Regions from separate parts of the Homo sapiens genome. Here regions 1 and 2 are each reported to be linked to region 3. Evidence: microRNA targets listed by miRTarBase, many of them from high-throughput screens and not tested one by one. Region 3 holds a microRNA gene; each other region holds the end of a gene's coding sequence. Distances are from middle to middle.
The links. Region 3 holds the annotated microRNA hsa-miR-6878-3p (CUGGCCUCUUCUUUCUCCUAG, at 2,809-2,829, opposite strand). A microRNA usually pairs through its seed, bases 2 to 8, with sites in the 3' UTR of a target mRNA and lowers its output. Matches are read on the target gene's strand: a 7mer-m8 pairs with bases 2 to 8, a 7mer-A1 pairs with bases 2 to 7 and ends in A, and an 8mer does both.

Region 1: the mRNA of PCP4L1 is a reported target of hsa-miR-6878-3p. Seed matches in the 3' UTR shown: 7mer-m8 at 3,185-3,191.
Region 2: miRTarBase lists TMEM186 as a target of hsa-miR-6878-3p. The part of its 3' UTR that is shown has no 7-base or 8-base seed match.

The regions. Positions count from the first base shown.
Region 1 is chr1:161,283,402-161,288,493 of GRCh38, reverse strand. It overlaps PCP4L1 (Purkinje cell protein 4 like 1), which reads right to left. Exons shown (of 3, transcript NM_001102566.2): 2 at 4,772-4,826; 3 at 3,044-4,155. The coding sequence ends at 4,013. It overlaps LOC105371472 (a long non-coding RNA gene), which reads left to right and starts at 4,151. Exons shown (of 2, transcript XR_922213.2): 1 at 4,151-5,092.
Region 2 is chr16:8,791,874-8,796,965 of GRCh38, reverse strand. TMEM186 (transmembrane protein 186) reads left to right here. Exons shown (of 2, transcript NM_015421.4): 2 at 376-1,786. The coding sequence ends at 1,014. Among named protein-coding and RNA genes, the nearest start is that of TMEM186, 3.2 kb to the left of the region's middle. RefSeq lists a silencer at 4,807-4,986.
Region 3 is chr1:150,490,127-150,495,218 of GRCh38, reverse strand. It overlaps MIR6878 (microRNA 6878), which reads right to left and starts at 2,874; the gene lies at 2,809-2,874. It overlaps TARS2 (threonyl-tRNA synthetase 2, mitochondrial), which reads right to left. Exons shown (of 18, transcript NM_025150.5): 4 at 4,494-4,618; 5 at 3,708-3,825; 6 at 3,557-3,621; 7 at 2,730-2,808.

The DNA of each region.
Region 1 (5,092 bases), 11 Mb from region 3:
TTCTTATGCTTGTATTTTCTGCTAAGCCATTTATAAAGGCATTCACCCATTCCCCAAATACTCAGTTTTTGCTCCACAAAAGAAAGCACTCAAGAATAATTCCTCAGTGATTAGTATTTGAGGATTAGTTCTTCAGTAGTAGGTACTAGAGGGACAGGGAAGTGAAGCAAGGTTCTAGAGCCCCAAGATCCCAGCCTCAGCCCAGGGCCCCAAGGAGGAATTATAGGCATGCTAGAGAAAAGAGGCTCAGTTTGAGTGCCCATGATAGGAATAAGTAGCATGGCAGAGAGAAAACAGTGTTCAGAACCTTCATTGAGAACTACCATTTGTTCAGCAAAAGATGCCCAAGTCTCTCTTTCTGGTTAGAGCTCTTTCCCAAAGCAATGACTATGTTTTTGCTACCATGCCCTTTATTAAAAATATGAGTATGAGCATGAGAACAAGCATAACATTTTTAAAGCGAGAGATGGTAAAGGGAAAAATCATTTCAGCACTGTGCTCCAGATCAGTGTGGCAAAAAACAAATAAACAGATACCCCCAAGCAGCAGAGTCTGCAAGAGAGGAGCTGGTGGCAAAGGACTCCAGCATTGCCTTAGCACCAGCCACAAAAGTTCACTTCACCAAAAAGAGGAAGCCCCTGCCTTACCCTAGTACCCACAGGGGCAGACCAGGTACAGCACCCATCAATTCTCATCTTATGTCCATGGAACAAGGGAAGGGGGAATACTCCAGCTTTATCAGACACACTGGACACACAGCAGGTGTGGCAATGAGGTTATCCTTTTATTTGCCTATGAGGCTGGGACCAAAGTTCACCATCATTACCATACTGTACTCAGAACAGATTCCAAAAGTAACAGTAAAATTTCCTCCTTTTCCCTGGCATCAGAAGAAGGGGGGAATTCCTTTAACATAGGACCTTCCAATGAATTACTGGTCAATTCTCCTCATATCCTATGGCAACGGGCTTGCTACGCATGAGTAAACTTTGAGCTATAGGTTACCTTCTAGGGATATTGTTCCTTGTTTCCCATTCATAGCTGCCACATGGTTTACACACACATACACGTTTTTTTTTCAGAGACAGGGTCTCCCTCTGTCACCCAGGCTGGAGTGCAGTGGTGTGATCATAGCTCATGGCAGCCTTGAACTCCTGGGCTCAAACGATCCTCCTGCCTCAGCCTCCCAAGTAGCTGGCATTATAGGCATGCACCATCGTGCCCAGCTGACTTTTTTTTTTTTTGAGATGGAGTTTCACTCTGGTTGCCAAGGCTGGAGTGCAATGGCATGATCTCAGCTCCACAACCTCTGCCTCCTGGGTTCAAGTGATTCTTCTGCTCAGCCTCCCAAGTAGCTGGGATTAAAAAGATGTGCCACCACGCCAGGCTAATTTTGTATTTTTAGTAGAGATGAGGTTTCTCTATGTTGGTCAGGCTGTTCTTGAACTCCCAACCTCAGGTGATCCACCCATCTTGGCCTCCCAAAGGGCTGGGATTACAGGCATGAGCCACCGCACTTGGCCTCCAGCTGACATATACATACATATATATATACATATATATATATTTTTTGAAACAGAGTTTCACTCTTGTCACCCAGGCTGGAGTGCAGTGTAGTGGTGCCATCTCTGCTCACTGCAACCTCTGCCTCCTGGGTTCAAGCGATTCTCCTGCCTCAGCCTCCCAAGTAGCTGGGATTACAGGCATTTGCCATCATGCCCAGCTAATTTTATATTTTTTAAGTAGAGACAGGGTTTTACCATGTTGGCCAGGCTGGTCTTGAACTCCTGACCTCAGGTCATCCACACACCTTGGCCTCCCAAAGTGCTGGGATTACAGGCATGGGCCACTGGGCCCGGCCTGACTTCTGTATTCTTAAATCAAGAAGGGAAGGGTAAATATGAAGAAGTAAGGGGACTTAGAAATAGGAAGTAGAATGGTGGTTGCCAGAGGCTGGGAAGAGGGGAGATGGGGATTACTGTCTAAAGGATATAGGTGTAGAGTTTCAATTTTACAAGATGGAAAGAGTTACAGAGATGGATAGCGATGATAGTTACACAGTATTATTGAATGTATTTGATGCTATTAAACTGTACACTTAAAAATGGTTAGGATGAAAAATTTTGTTATGTATATTTTACCAGAACAAAAACAATTGAAAAGGAAAAAAGGCCGGGTGCTGTGGCTCACACCTGTAACCCCAGCACTTTGGGAGGCCGAGGCAGGCAGATCGCCTGAGGTTGGGAGTTTGAGACCAGCCTGACCAACATGGAGAAACCCCATCTCTACTAAAAATAGAAAACTAGCCAGGCGTGGTGGCACATGCCTGTAGTCCCAGCTACTCGGGAGGGTGAGGCAGGAGAATCGCTTGAACCTGGGAGGCGGAGGTTGCGGTGAGCCCAGACTGCACCATTGTACTCCAGCCTGGGCAACAAGAGCGAAACTCCATCTCAAAAAAAAAAAAAAATAGATCATTCTTTGCTCCATCTTTAAACATTTGGCTTCCGGTTTTAGCATATAGAGGTAATTTCTCAGCAATTTAAGCTACTTGAAAGCCATAATTTTATGTAATTAGTGGATTAAAATTTTAATGTAACAGTGGTGCTCTCTAGTGACCAGTCTTTTCCTTTCCTTGCATCTGATAAACAAGAGGGAGGGGAGGGGAGAATGTGGGAGGAAGACAAAGCAAGAAGGAAATCTAGGATAGGTCATTTGGGAATCCGGAGCAAGGAAGACCAGGTTTGTTTTCAGAGGGATGTGTACCCAGCACGCTCTCAGCTGGAAGGAGAAAGGAAAAATGAGCACTCTTGCAAGTGCACCCTGGGGGTGGTGACAGCAACACAGAGACAATGTGGGTGGCAAATCAAGGTGAGGGCAAGGTCAGTAGGGGTGGGGGAAAGGGAGGGTTGGCTTCAGTCTGAAAATTGCTCAGGCAGTGTTAGTTTCTTGCGCTACCACGCAGTCAACGCAGTTGCTTCTCCACCCCACTCCCTGAGGCCAGCTCAGGCTTATACTCACATTCCTCCCAAGAAAAAAACATTAGTAGAGGTTAAATGACCCCATTTGTGGGGTGGTTTATTGTTAAAATGATTAAACATGCTAAAATCACATGGAGTGGCTATTCCACTTTTGCCCTGACTCCATAGTGGGGCAAATGGGAACTACAGGAGTCACTTGGTTTGTGTGGCCTCTGGGGATGGTTAGACTTGGAGGGTTAGCGGTGAGCAGGTTAGCAAAGCCCCAAGCATCCTTCATGTAGTACACTTTTCCCAGCAGTAAAAAAATTCAGAGATTTCCCCCTTCTTCACTTTTCTTTCCTCCCTATATGTGCCCTACTTCTCATTCTCCTATGGCCCTGGAACCTCTTATGCTTCTGCCCGTTATGGTCTTAGACTAGATGATGAGGGAGGCTTTTCCTTGACACCAGCATTCCAGTCTCCCTTCCTTGGAACTAATCTACTCAGCATGCACTATTGTGGTAAGCTGCTTGATTTAGGTCTGCCTAGGGGGAAAACGAGGCTCCAGTCCCCACTGTGGCTTAGATCCTGGGAGGGGAAGTTGGAGTTGGTGCAGAAGGATCTGAAGGGGAAAAAAAATGTTACCTAAAGTGTGAATGCCGTAACTAGCAGAACAGTGCATATGTCCCACCCTCAGGCACCCTACTCTGAAAGCCTTCCCCTCCTTCCCACATTGTTCTTTGGGGAGATCTCTCAGCCTCGAAGCCTCTTGTTTAGCCCTACAGGGCAGGCATAGCTACTGATCAAAGAACCTTATACCAAGAAGAAATTGTTCCACCCTTAGACTAGTGACTGCTGATTGAAGTCTTCATCTTCTCCACCTCTCTTGTGCCTCTACTTCTGTGATGGCTTGAGGGGGCCAGATACAAGAGTATATAAAGGTTGAACTTGCCTCAAGGAAAGGCTAGAGGGACAAGGGATAAAGATACATGGGTGTGGAGAAGGGGAGAGAAGGGACCAGCATGAAGGTGAAGGTGAAGGGCAAGCCTGGCCATTCAGGAGCTGGGATCCTTTTTCCTTTTCTGAAATCGCCGGAACTTGCCCTGAATAGCAAGGGCAGCCTTCTCTGTTTCTGGTGCTGTCAGATCAATGTCAATCTCCTCCTCCTCCTCCGCCTTCTTGACATTGCCAGCTTTTCCTGCAGATAGTTGGGAGACTCATTAATGAGTTAATCTGACCTGCTCTAGACCCTTTCTCCAGGCCCCCAATACAGTGGGTAAGGTCCACCTTGTGCCAGACTCTGTGGGGTCCCCAAATTTTTGCTAGGATTATGAATGCCTGATAATTCCCCTAGAAGTCTGAGTCAAGGTACTTAGGCTGGGAATTAGCTATAGTTACTTAGGGGAGCTCTGCTACTCTTGGACCAAACAACAAATGTCTTCTTTCATCACTTATTCATAAATCCTACAGTTCAAGTTCCAATGCACACTCACTTTCCTCAGCTTTCTCTCAGTTTCTGATGGAGATAATGCTGGGACTTTTGATGAGTTTCTTCTTATCTTGTACCTCTCTCCCCCCAACACTCCAGACCCAGTTTCTAAAATCAAGGAGGAAATACTGATCGTTTACTTTCTAGGAAAAATAGAAGGAAGCCTATAGATATAGTACTGTAGTTCCAAACTGGTACTTTGTTTCACTTATCCACATTCTTATTCCTTTCATGTCTGACTTTAGGAAATTCCAGACTCACCCTACTTGTCTTTATGTCTCTACAGTCACCTGCTCTACAAACTGCCTAGCCCAACCCCACTCACCTTTTTCCTCTTGGCCAGCTGCCTGGTTGGTTGCTGGGGATGTTTTGGTATTAAGCTGGAAAAAATATTAGGATATCAGAATATTAGATATTCATGGAAGTAATTTGAAGGCATCATCACCTTAGACCTCTTATATACTCTCAAACCCTATTACCAGGTGCATTCCCTTAGTCTTTTGAAGAAGCAAGTCTTGAGATCAGAGACCAGAGGAAAAGTTATCAAAATTCATCCAGCAAAGATTTACTGATGCTAGAAAGTGTAGAGGACAAAACAGACAAAGAAATTCTGCCCTCATGGAGCTTACATTCCAGTGTATATAGA
Region 2 (5,092 bases), not on the chromosome of region 3:
TCCAGCCCAGAGTTTGTCCTCCCTGGATATGTTTTGAATTAATGACGGCCGCACCTCCTTTCCTGTATTTATTTGGAATTGCCTGGTGGAAGGAGGACTCTGCTGCACTCACTGACTGTGTGATCTTTGGTAAATATCTTACCCTCTCTGGGCTTAGTTTCCCTAGTGGTAAAGTGGAAATAGTGATAACTATCTTAGATAGCTGTTGTGATGCCCACATGAGATAGCATCTGGCTTTACCCTTCCCTCGTCTGGCAATAACGGTTACCTTGCAGGATTGGCAGAAGCCTTAGAGTATGGTGCTTTGCAGATGTTCACCGTGTGATTAATGTGGTTGAGTTCCATGAGAGAAATGGTCTACTGTCTCCCTTTCAGGCTGCCCTTCTCCGAGCTGTGCGTAGGTTTCGGGGAAAAGCTGTGTGGGAAAGGCCTCTCCATGGGCTGTGGTGCTGCAGTGGGCAGGAGGATCCTAAGAGGTGGGTGGGCAGCAGTTCACCCATCTCGAAGGAGAAACTACCAAACGCAGAGACTGAGAAATTCTGGATGTTTTACCGTTTTGATGCCATCAGAACCTTCGGGTTCCTGTCACGACTGAAGTTGGCACAGACTGCCCTGACAGTGGTAGCTTTGCCACCAGGCTATTACTTGTACTCCCAGGGCCTCCTCACTCTCAACACCGTGTGCCTCATGAGTGGGATATCGGGCTTTGCCCTGACCATGCTGTGCTGGATGAGCTATTTCTTACGGAGACTGGTTGGTATCCTGTATCTGAATGAGTCTGGCACCATGCTGCGGGTGGCCCATCTGAACTTCTGGGGCTGGCGGCAGGACACATACTGTCCCATGGCAGATGTGATTCCCCTGACAGAAACCAAGGACCGGCCTCAGGAGATGTTTGTGCGTATCCAGCGGTACAGTGGGAAACAGACCTTCTACGTCACCCTGCGCTATGGACGCATCCTGGACAGAGAGCGTTTCACACAGGTGTTTGGGGTACATCAGATGCTCAAGTGAACAACTGGGACCTGGACCTCTGGGTAACCCTGGGTCGCCTGGATTAACAGGAAGGCTGAGGGTGTGGGCAAGGCTGAAGAAAGGGGACTGGGTACTTGGAGACTTTGCCTGGGCCCCTGGGAACATGTGTTTTGTGGTGAATAAATTCACAAGGCAAGAGCTGGTGTACAGGTTTAGGAAAAAGGCTCTAAGCAAGTTCTTACAGCACTTGTTTGTGACATTCAGTCAGATAATGGCCAGAAGTTTTTGTTAAGAGCCAGTTCTTAGAAGAACCTATGCCAAGGTCACCCATAGAGTCCATTGGTGTGAAAGAGAAAGGCAAAGAGGTGTGGCGGGGGAGCGTAAGATTTGGAGTCAGAAGTCTCAGTTCTGTCATTTGTCCTGGAGCAGGTTATTGAGTCTCTTTGAATCTTGGTTTTCACATCTGTAAAATGGAAAGTCCTGCTTGTTTCATGGGATGGGTGTGGGAATAAACAATAAATGTCAAACGTGTGGCAGACTCAACAGCCTACAGCAGATATTATTAAGCATTTGGTCAGAGGTTTTAGCAGGGAGAAAGGCTTCGAGCAGTCAGCAGGGACTTCCAGAGCCCTGTGCTGTGCCCCTCACATATCCAGCGGCAGAAGGGTCTGTCAGGATGTTAACTACACATTGACGAGCAGATGTCGTCCAGGTAGGCACGAAACCCCAGTTGAGATTTGTTCACCACCCAGAGGTCTAGAGGCTCTTGCTTTGGATGGCCCTGCAGTGTAATAAAGCCAAATGCACCGGATGCTGGTACGTTATTTTATAAACTTAAGCCAGTTATATACATTGCCCCACATAATTAATAATATATGTTCATTATACAATTTGTAACACAGTAAAGAGGAAGGAAGGCATGATCTTTATTATTTTGCCACTCGAAAGTCAATAAGAATGTTTTATCGCTGGGGGCGGTGGCTCACACCTGTAATCCCAGCACGTTGGGAGGTCAAGGTGGCGGATCACGAGGTCAGGAGATCGAGGCCATCCTCGCTAACAGGGTGAAACCGTGTCTCCACTAAAAAATACAAAAAAATTAGCTGGGCGTGGTGGCAGGTGCCTGTAGTCCCAGCTACTCGGGAGGCTGAGGCAGGACAATGGTGTGAACCTGGGAGGCGGAGTTTGCAGTGAGCCGAGATCACGCCACTGCACTCCAGCCTGGGCGACAGAGTGAGACTCCGTCTCAAAAAAAAAATATTTTTTTTTATTGTGTAGCCTTCCATTTTTCTTAACCATACCAAGATACACCTAACAAATTTATCCTTTTAATCATTTTTAAGTGTGCAATTCAGGGACATTAAGTATATTAACAATGTTGTACAGGCTGGGCACACTGTCTCATGCCTGTAATCCCAGCACTTTGGGAGGCTGAGGCGTGTGGATCACTTGAAGTCAGGAGTTCAAGACCAGCCTGGCCAACATGGCAAAACCCTGTCTCTACTGAAAATACAAAAATTAGCTGGGCATGGTGGTGGGCACTTGTATTCCCAGCTACTTGAGAAGCTTGAACCCGGGAGGCAGAGGTTGCAGTGAGCCGAGATTGCACCAATGCACTCCAGCCTGGGAGACAGCCAGACTATCTCAAAAACAAACAAAACAAAAAATGTTGTACAACCGTCACCACCATCTATTTCCAGAACATTTTCATTATCCCAAACAGAACTAATATACCCATTGAGCAATAATTTCCTTCTTTTTCCAGCCCTTGGCAACCACTAACCTGCTTTCTGTCCCTCTGGATTCACCTGTTCTGGATATTTCATATAAATGGAATCATACAATATGTGACCCTTTGTATCTGGCTCTTTTTTTTTTTTTTTTTTGAGTTGAAGTCTCGCTCTGTTTCCCAGGCCAGAGAGCAGTGGCGCGATGTCCACTCACTGCAACTTCCGCCTCACCAGCTCAAATGATTCTGCCTCAGCCTCCCAAGTAGCTGGGATTATAGGTGCCTGACGCCAAGCCTGGCTAATTTTTGTATTTTTAGTAGAGATGGGGTTTCACCATGTTGTCCAGGCTGACCTGGAATCTCTGACCTCAAGTGATCACCCACCTCGGCCTCCCACAGTGCTGGGATTATAGGCGTGAGCCAGTGCGGCTGGCCTGTATCTGGCTTCTTTGACTTGGTGTAGTGTTGTCAAGGTGCATCCGTGTTGTAGCATATGTCAGTGCTATTTCTTTTTTATGGTTAAATATATTTACGGGTGCAGTGTGTATTCTCTGTGTGTGCCACATTTTGTTTGTCCATCTGTTGATGGACATTTGAGTTGTCGTCACCTTTTGACTACTGATGAATGAACATTTGGCTATTGCTGTGAACACTGGTATACGAGTATCTGTTTGAGTCCCTGCTTTCAGTTGTTTTGGGTACGTACTGAGAAGTGGATTAACTGGATCCTGTGGTAATTCTGTTTATTTTTGAGGACCTGCCACTTTTCCACAGCAGCTGTACCATTTTACATTCTCACCAGCAACAGACAAGGGTTCCTGTTTCTCTACATTCTTGTCAACAGTGGTTACTTTTCCTTTTTTTTAAATTTGAGATGGAGTCTTACTCTGTCACCCAGACTGGGTTGCAGTGGTGTGATCTTGGCTCACTGCAGACTCCGCCTCTCAGGTTCAAGCGATTCTCCTGCCTCAGCCTCCTGAGTAGCTGGGATTACAGGCACCCACCACCATGCCCAGCTAATTTTTCTGCTTTTAGTAGAGATGTGGTTTTGCCATGTTGGCCAGACTGGTCTCGAACTCCTGAACTCGAGGGATCCACCTGCCTCGGCCTCCCAAAGTGCTGGGATTACAGGTATGAGCCACCACGCCTGGCCCTTCACTTCGATGCTTCTGTCCTGTGCTTCCATCCTTGCTTTACTTGAGTCCGTTTTTGCAGCTGTCAAAGTGATGCTTAAAAACAGAATCACGTCACTGCTGTGAAGGCTGATGGCCTAATCCACCCTCCCCTTCCCTCCCTCATCCGCACCTCTGTGGAGATCATTCCCCCAGGTCACGACTGCCTTGCTGTTCTCCAGTAATCGAGAATATTCCAGCCTTAAGGCCTTTGCATTGACAGTTCCCTCTGCCTGGAAGGCTTTCTCCCTAGATGCCTGCAAAGAGAACTAACCGCCTCCCCTTCAGTATCCTCTCGGTATAACAGGGTTTTACTATTTATGCTCAAGAAGTGTAGTGAAGATTCAATTATATAGAAGAGACATGTGCATAGCAGTTACACGTGGCTGTTCATTCCTTCTGTACCTTGCCTTCACCTGCCTGTCAGTTCCTTCAGTGACTGTGACTCCCTTCCCCATGAAGAGATAAAGCCTGTGGCTAAAAAATGTCTTAAGAAGTCATAATGATTTGACCTTAACCTCATTAAAACCAAAAATTCTCTCTGTTGGGTTGTAAGTAATGACCTGAGTGAGCCTCACCCCAGGATATTCTGATTATGTCTGGGGTGGATTTCCAGGATCTGTTTTTTTGACCAGCTTGAAGCCAATTCTGAGATTCAGGCAGGCTGGGAATTTCTGAAATACATTACTAGAACAGAAGACACCAGAGTGACACATGGTTCTGTGGACTTTGTGTTCCTGGGCCAATTTTCTGCCCAAAGAATAGGTTCTTAACACTGGCTTTATGTGTAGAATCTCCTGGAGAGTGTTTTAAAAACCCCATTGTCGAAGCCCATGACCAGGCATTTTTATTTTCACGGTTCCCTGGGTGATTCTAACATGGTTGACCATCGCTGCCTTTGGAGAATCACCACTCTGTTAAGTCTGCAAGGGGCTTGCCCTGGGAGGTGAGACCAGATTCTCACCCATGCAGGCATTCCATGTGTGGTCTGCTCATGCAGTACCAGCAGAGGGCACACAGAGCAAATGCATTATTCTAACGCTGTATCCCTAAGCTAAAATCACAGATGTCCACCAGATAACAGGAAATGTGTTAGGGCTTCTGTCATGCACCAGTAGGGTAGTACCTGAGAGCTGCCCCCAAAAAACCAAAGTCAACAACAGAAGCAATAAAAGGACTGGTGCAGTGGCTCACACCTGTAATCCCAACTCTTTGG
Region 3 (5,092 bases):
CCACCACCACCACACTCGACTAATTTTTTTTTTCTTTTTTTGAGACGGAGTCTCGCTGTCGCCCAGGCTGGAGTGCAGTGGCGTGATCTTGGCTCACTGCAGGCTCCACCCCCCAGGGTTCACGCCATTCTCCTGCCTCAGCCTCCCAAGTAGCTGGGACTACAGGCGCCCGCCACCTCGCCCAGCTAATTTTTTGTATTTTTAGTAGACAGGGTTTCACCGTGTTAGCCAGGATGGTCTCGATCTCCTGACCTCATGATCCGCCTGCCTCAGCCTCCCAAAGTGATGGGATTACAGGCGTGAGCCACTGCGCCCGGCCACACCTGGCTAATTTTTTGTATTTTTAGTAGAGACGGGGTTTCACGGTGTTAGCCAGGATGGTCTCGATCTCTGGACCTCGTGATTCACTCGCCTCAGCCTCCCAAAGTGTTAGGATTACAGGCGTGAGCCACCACGCCCAGCCCCTATATGTATATTTTTTGAAACAGAGTCTCACTCTGTTGCCCAGGCTGGAGTGCAGTGGTGCAATCTTGGCTCACTGCAACCTCTGCCTCCCAGTTCAAGCAATTCTCCTGCCTCAGCCTCCCGAGTAGCTGGGACTACAGGTGCATGCCACCACGCCCAGCTAATTTTTTATTTTTAGTAGTGACGAGGTTTCACCATGTTGGCCAGGCTGGTCTTGAACTCCTGAGCTCAAGTGATCCGCCCAACTTGGCCTCCCAAAGTGTTGGGATTACACGTGTGAACCACCGCACCTGGCCGACAGTCTGTATTTTACAGCACTTTTTAACTTTTCCTTTTTCCTGAATTAGTTGGTTTTCATTATCTTTTTTTTTTTTTTTTTTTTTGAGATGTTGTCTCGCTCCGTGGCCCAGGCTGGAATGCAGTGGCACAATCTCAGCTCACTGCAACCTCTGCCTCCTGGCAGAGTTCAAGTGACTCTCCTGCCTCAGCCTTTTTTGTAGCTGGGATTACAGGCGTAGGCCAGCACACCCAGCTAATTTGTGTATTTTTAGTAGAGACAGGGTTTCACCATGTTGGCCAGGCTGGTCTCGAACTCCTGACCTCAAGTGATCCGCCTGCCTCACCCTCCCCAAAGTGCTGGGATTACAGGTGTGAGCCACCATGCCTGGCCTGGTTTTCATTATCTTTATGAGGTGAATTTACTGGTAGGACAAAAAGGAATTAATAGCCTCATTTTATAGATGGGGAAAATAAGTAAGATTTACCCAAGGCCACCGCGCCATGGGGTTTTGCCATGTTGGCCAGGCTGATCTCAAGTGATCCACCCACCTTGGCCTCCCAAAGTGCTGGGATTATAGGCATGAGCCACCATGCCCAGTCTAAGTTCAGAGCTTTTTGCTCTACACATCTGCATTTCCCCTTGCTCCCTTGTAACTCATCCCATTCCATCTAGTAACTCTTCTTGTCCAGAACAGTATTTTCTTTTCTTTTTTTTTTTTTTGAGACGGAGTTTTGCTCTTGTTGCCCAGGCTAGAGTGCAATGGCACGATCTTGGATCGCCACAACCTCCACCTCCCAGGTTCAAGTGATTCTCCTGCCTCAGCCTCACAAGTAGCTGGGATTACAGGCATGTGCCACCACGCCCAGTTAATTTTGTATTTTTAGTAGAGACGGGGTTTCTCCATGTTGGTCAGGCCGGTCTTGAACTCCCGACCTCAGGTGGTCCACCCACCTCGGCTTCCCAAAGTGCTGGGATTATAGGCGTGAGCCACCATGCAGAACGGTATTTTCATAAAAAGCATGCCCTTTACTAAAGGTATTTTCCCTGTGCCTGTCAAATGGTGTTCATCTTCCTCCTGGACCACGCCCCCTCTCTCTACAACCCTTCCCTGTATGACCCATCCAGCTTGCTCACACCCTCCTGCTCCACCCCTCCACCCCCCTTAATACTGACATCATATTAGGGCATCTGAATTGGCTTCTGGGCCCTAGCAGGCTGTCCAGTGTGTGCCATCAAACGGGTTTTTAGAATGTGGGGACAAAGTTTCTTTCTCCTGTATTCCCCGCTCAGCTTATGAGAGTACAGGGCCAGGCTCAGTGGCTCATGCCTGTAATCCCAGCACTTTGGGAGGCTGAGAAGGGAAGATCACTTGAGATCACCCTGGCCAACATGGTGAAACCCTGTCTCTACTAAAAATACAAAAAGTAGCTGGGCATGGTGGTGCACACCTATTATCCCAGCTACTCGGGAGGCTGAAGCAGGAGAATTGCTTGAATCCAGGAGGCGAAGCTTGCAGTGAGCCAAGATCGCGCCACTGCACTCCAGCCTGGGCGACCGAGAGACTTGGTCTCAAAAAAAAAAAAGGGGGGTGCCGACAGAAAGTATCACCTTCCGATTCTCCTGCTCATCCCAGTGAAACCAGGAATTTTTTTTTTTTTTTTTTTGAGATGGACTCTCGCTCTGTTGCCCAGGCTGGAGTGCAGTAGTGCAGTCTCGGCTCACTACAACCTCCGCCTCCCAGGTTCAGGCAACTCTCCTGTCTCAGCCTCCCGAGCAGCTAGGACTACAGGTGTGTGCCACCACACCCAGCTAATTTTTGTATTTTTAGTAGAGACGGGGTTTCACCATATTGGCCAGGCTGGTCTCAAACTCCTGACTTTATGATCCATCTGCCTCAGCCTCCCAAAGTGCTGGGATTACAAGCGTGAGCCACCATGCCCGGCTCAAAATAGGAATCTTAACCTAACTCTGTCCCACAACTGACCGATAGCAGCTTCAGTCCTCCAATCTGTCCAGTATGCCGAAGGTGGGGGCCCTGGCAAAGGTCAACCAATGTGCCACACCTAGGAGAAAGAAGAGGCCAGTTAGTGATTTTCAGAATCTTCAGCTTCTAGCTTTCTCCCTCTCATGGTCTTTAGCTGACAGAAGAGGTGAAGAGAAAGGAACTGTCCTACTGAGAGAGGGCAATGGCAGATAAAAATCAATTCCCTGGCAGGGCGCGGTGGCTCATGTCTATAATCCCAGAACTTTGGGAGGCCAAGGTGGGTGGATCACGTGGTCAGGAGTTCGAGACCAGCCTGGACAATATGGTGAAACCCCGTCTCTACTAAAAATATAAAAATTAGCTAGGCATGGTGGTGCATGCCTGTAGTTCCAGCTACTCGGGAGGCTGAGGCAGAAGAATTGTTTGAACCCGGGAGGCAGAGATGCAGTGAGCCGAGATCGCGCCACTGCATTCCAGCCTGGGTGACAGAACAAGACTTCATCTCAAAAAAAAAAAAAAAAAAAAAAACTAGCCAGGCATGGTGGCACATGCCTGTAATCCCAGCCACTCTGGAGGCTAAGGCAGGAGAATCACTTGAACCCAGGAGGCGGAGGTTGCAGTGAGCCGAGATCGTGCTACCGCACTCCAGCCTGGGAGACAGACCAAGACTCCGTCTCAAAAAAAGAAAAAAAAAAAATCAATTCCCATTCCCATTTCTTTTTCTGGAGCAACACAAATTACCTTCTATCTTTCTTCCCTTATCGCATTTCTGGCCTTCTTCAATGCTTCCCCACCTCTCTGTTTGCCTTAATCTTGACAACTCTTACCCATATACTGTTGCTGTTGGACCTGTCACTTTCTCCTCAATCAAGTGAAGCTTAAAGGGGTTATCCTGGAAAAAGGTAGAAGGGAGATTGAAGAAAAGTGTTTATTCCCACAAAGATGTCCTGGAAGAGCCACCTCTTCCCTCCACCCCACCTTGAACAACTGGCGAAGCTGATCCCGTGAAGCCTCTAGCCTCCGGAAGGGTCGAGCAGCAGCTGTAAGTTCCTGGCAAATCCGCTCCAAAACAGGCAGCTCTGAGCCCCGGATTGTCCTGGAAAGAGGAGAATTGGTTGGGTTGCATCCTATGAGGTGCATCAATCACCTGGGTGACACACCTGTTGGCTAGCGGGTAAGGTCCTGTCCTTCAAGAGAAATCTAGAGTTATAGGCAAAGACAGACAAACTCAGAGAAAATATAAATAGGATATCAGGTAACAGATATTACAGCTGGAGAAAAAGCTCTATGCATGAAGTTAAAAGTTGAATGCAGGAAATCTGGATAGACAAAGTTAGAACAATAGTAATGAGGGCGATTAAGTAAAACTTGAATTTATGAAAGCTAACAAGTAACAAAGTAAGTTGTTTCTTCTTTTTCTTTTTGTTTTTTTTTTGAGAAAGTGTCTTGCTGTGTCACACAAGTTGGGTGCAGTGGTTAAGATCATGGCTCACCACAGCCTCAACCTCCCAGGCTCAAGTGATCCTTCCACCTCAGCCTCCCAAGTAGCTGGGACTACATGTGCACCAGCCAAGAAGGTAAATTTCAAGCAAAGTTAGAAGAGGGACATGGACTAGCACAGAAGGAGATACTAATGTCATAGTTGAGACCTAGAGAAACCCTTCTCCTCCAGCTTCCTCATCCAAATGGAGCATGCCCAAGGCCCCTGAAAAGAGCCTCAGAAACCATCCCAGAATCATTCTCCTCCTTCCTTTCATTACTCACCTCTCCTTTCCCAGGAAGAAATCATGGTAAAAGCCATATTCTGTACTTGGACCTCTGCAGAGAACAGCACCTAGGAATTGTTCAGCTGCTGCCCCCAGGACATGGGTGCTGGAGTGCCAGAACACCTGGGTTCACAAAAAAGGGGTTCACAAGTTCATAAACTTCTCCCTTAACCCCTAGATCTCTGAGCTCTTCCTCACAAAAGCTGGTAGGAAAGCCGGTATGGTTCTTCTAGGAATAACTACCACAAAATGGGGATCCTAGATTTTGGGGGTGACCACTAAAAAGTAACAAGCTTAAAAAAAAAGGCTGGGCACAGCAGCTCATGCCTGTAACCCCAACACTTCAGGAGGTCAAGGCAGGCGGATCATCTGAGGTCAGGAGTTCGAGGCCAGTCTGGCCAACATGGTGAAACCCTGTCTCTGCTAAAACATACAAAACTAGCCAGGCATGGTGGCGTGTGTCTGTAATCCCAGCTACTCAGGAGGCTGAGGCAGGAGAATCACTTGAACCCGGGAGGTGGAAGTTGCAGTGAACCAAGATCGCGCCACTGCACTCCAGCCTGGGTGACAGAGTGAGACTCCATCTCAAAAAAAAAA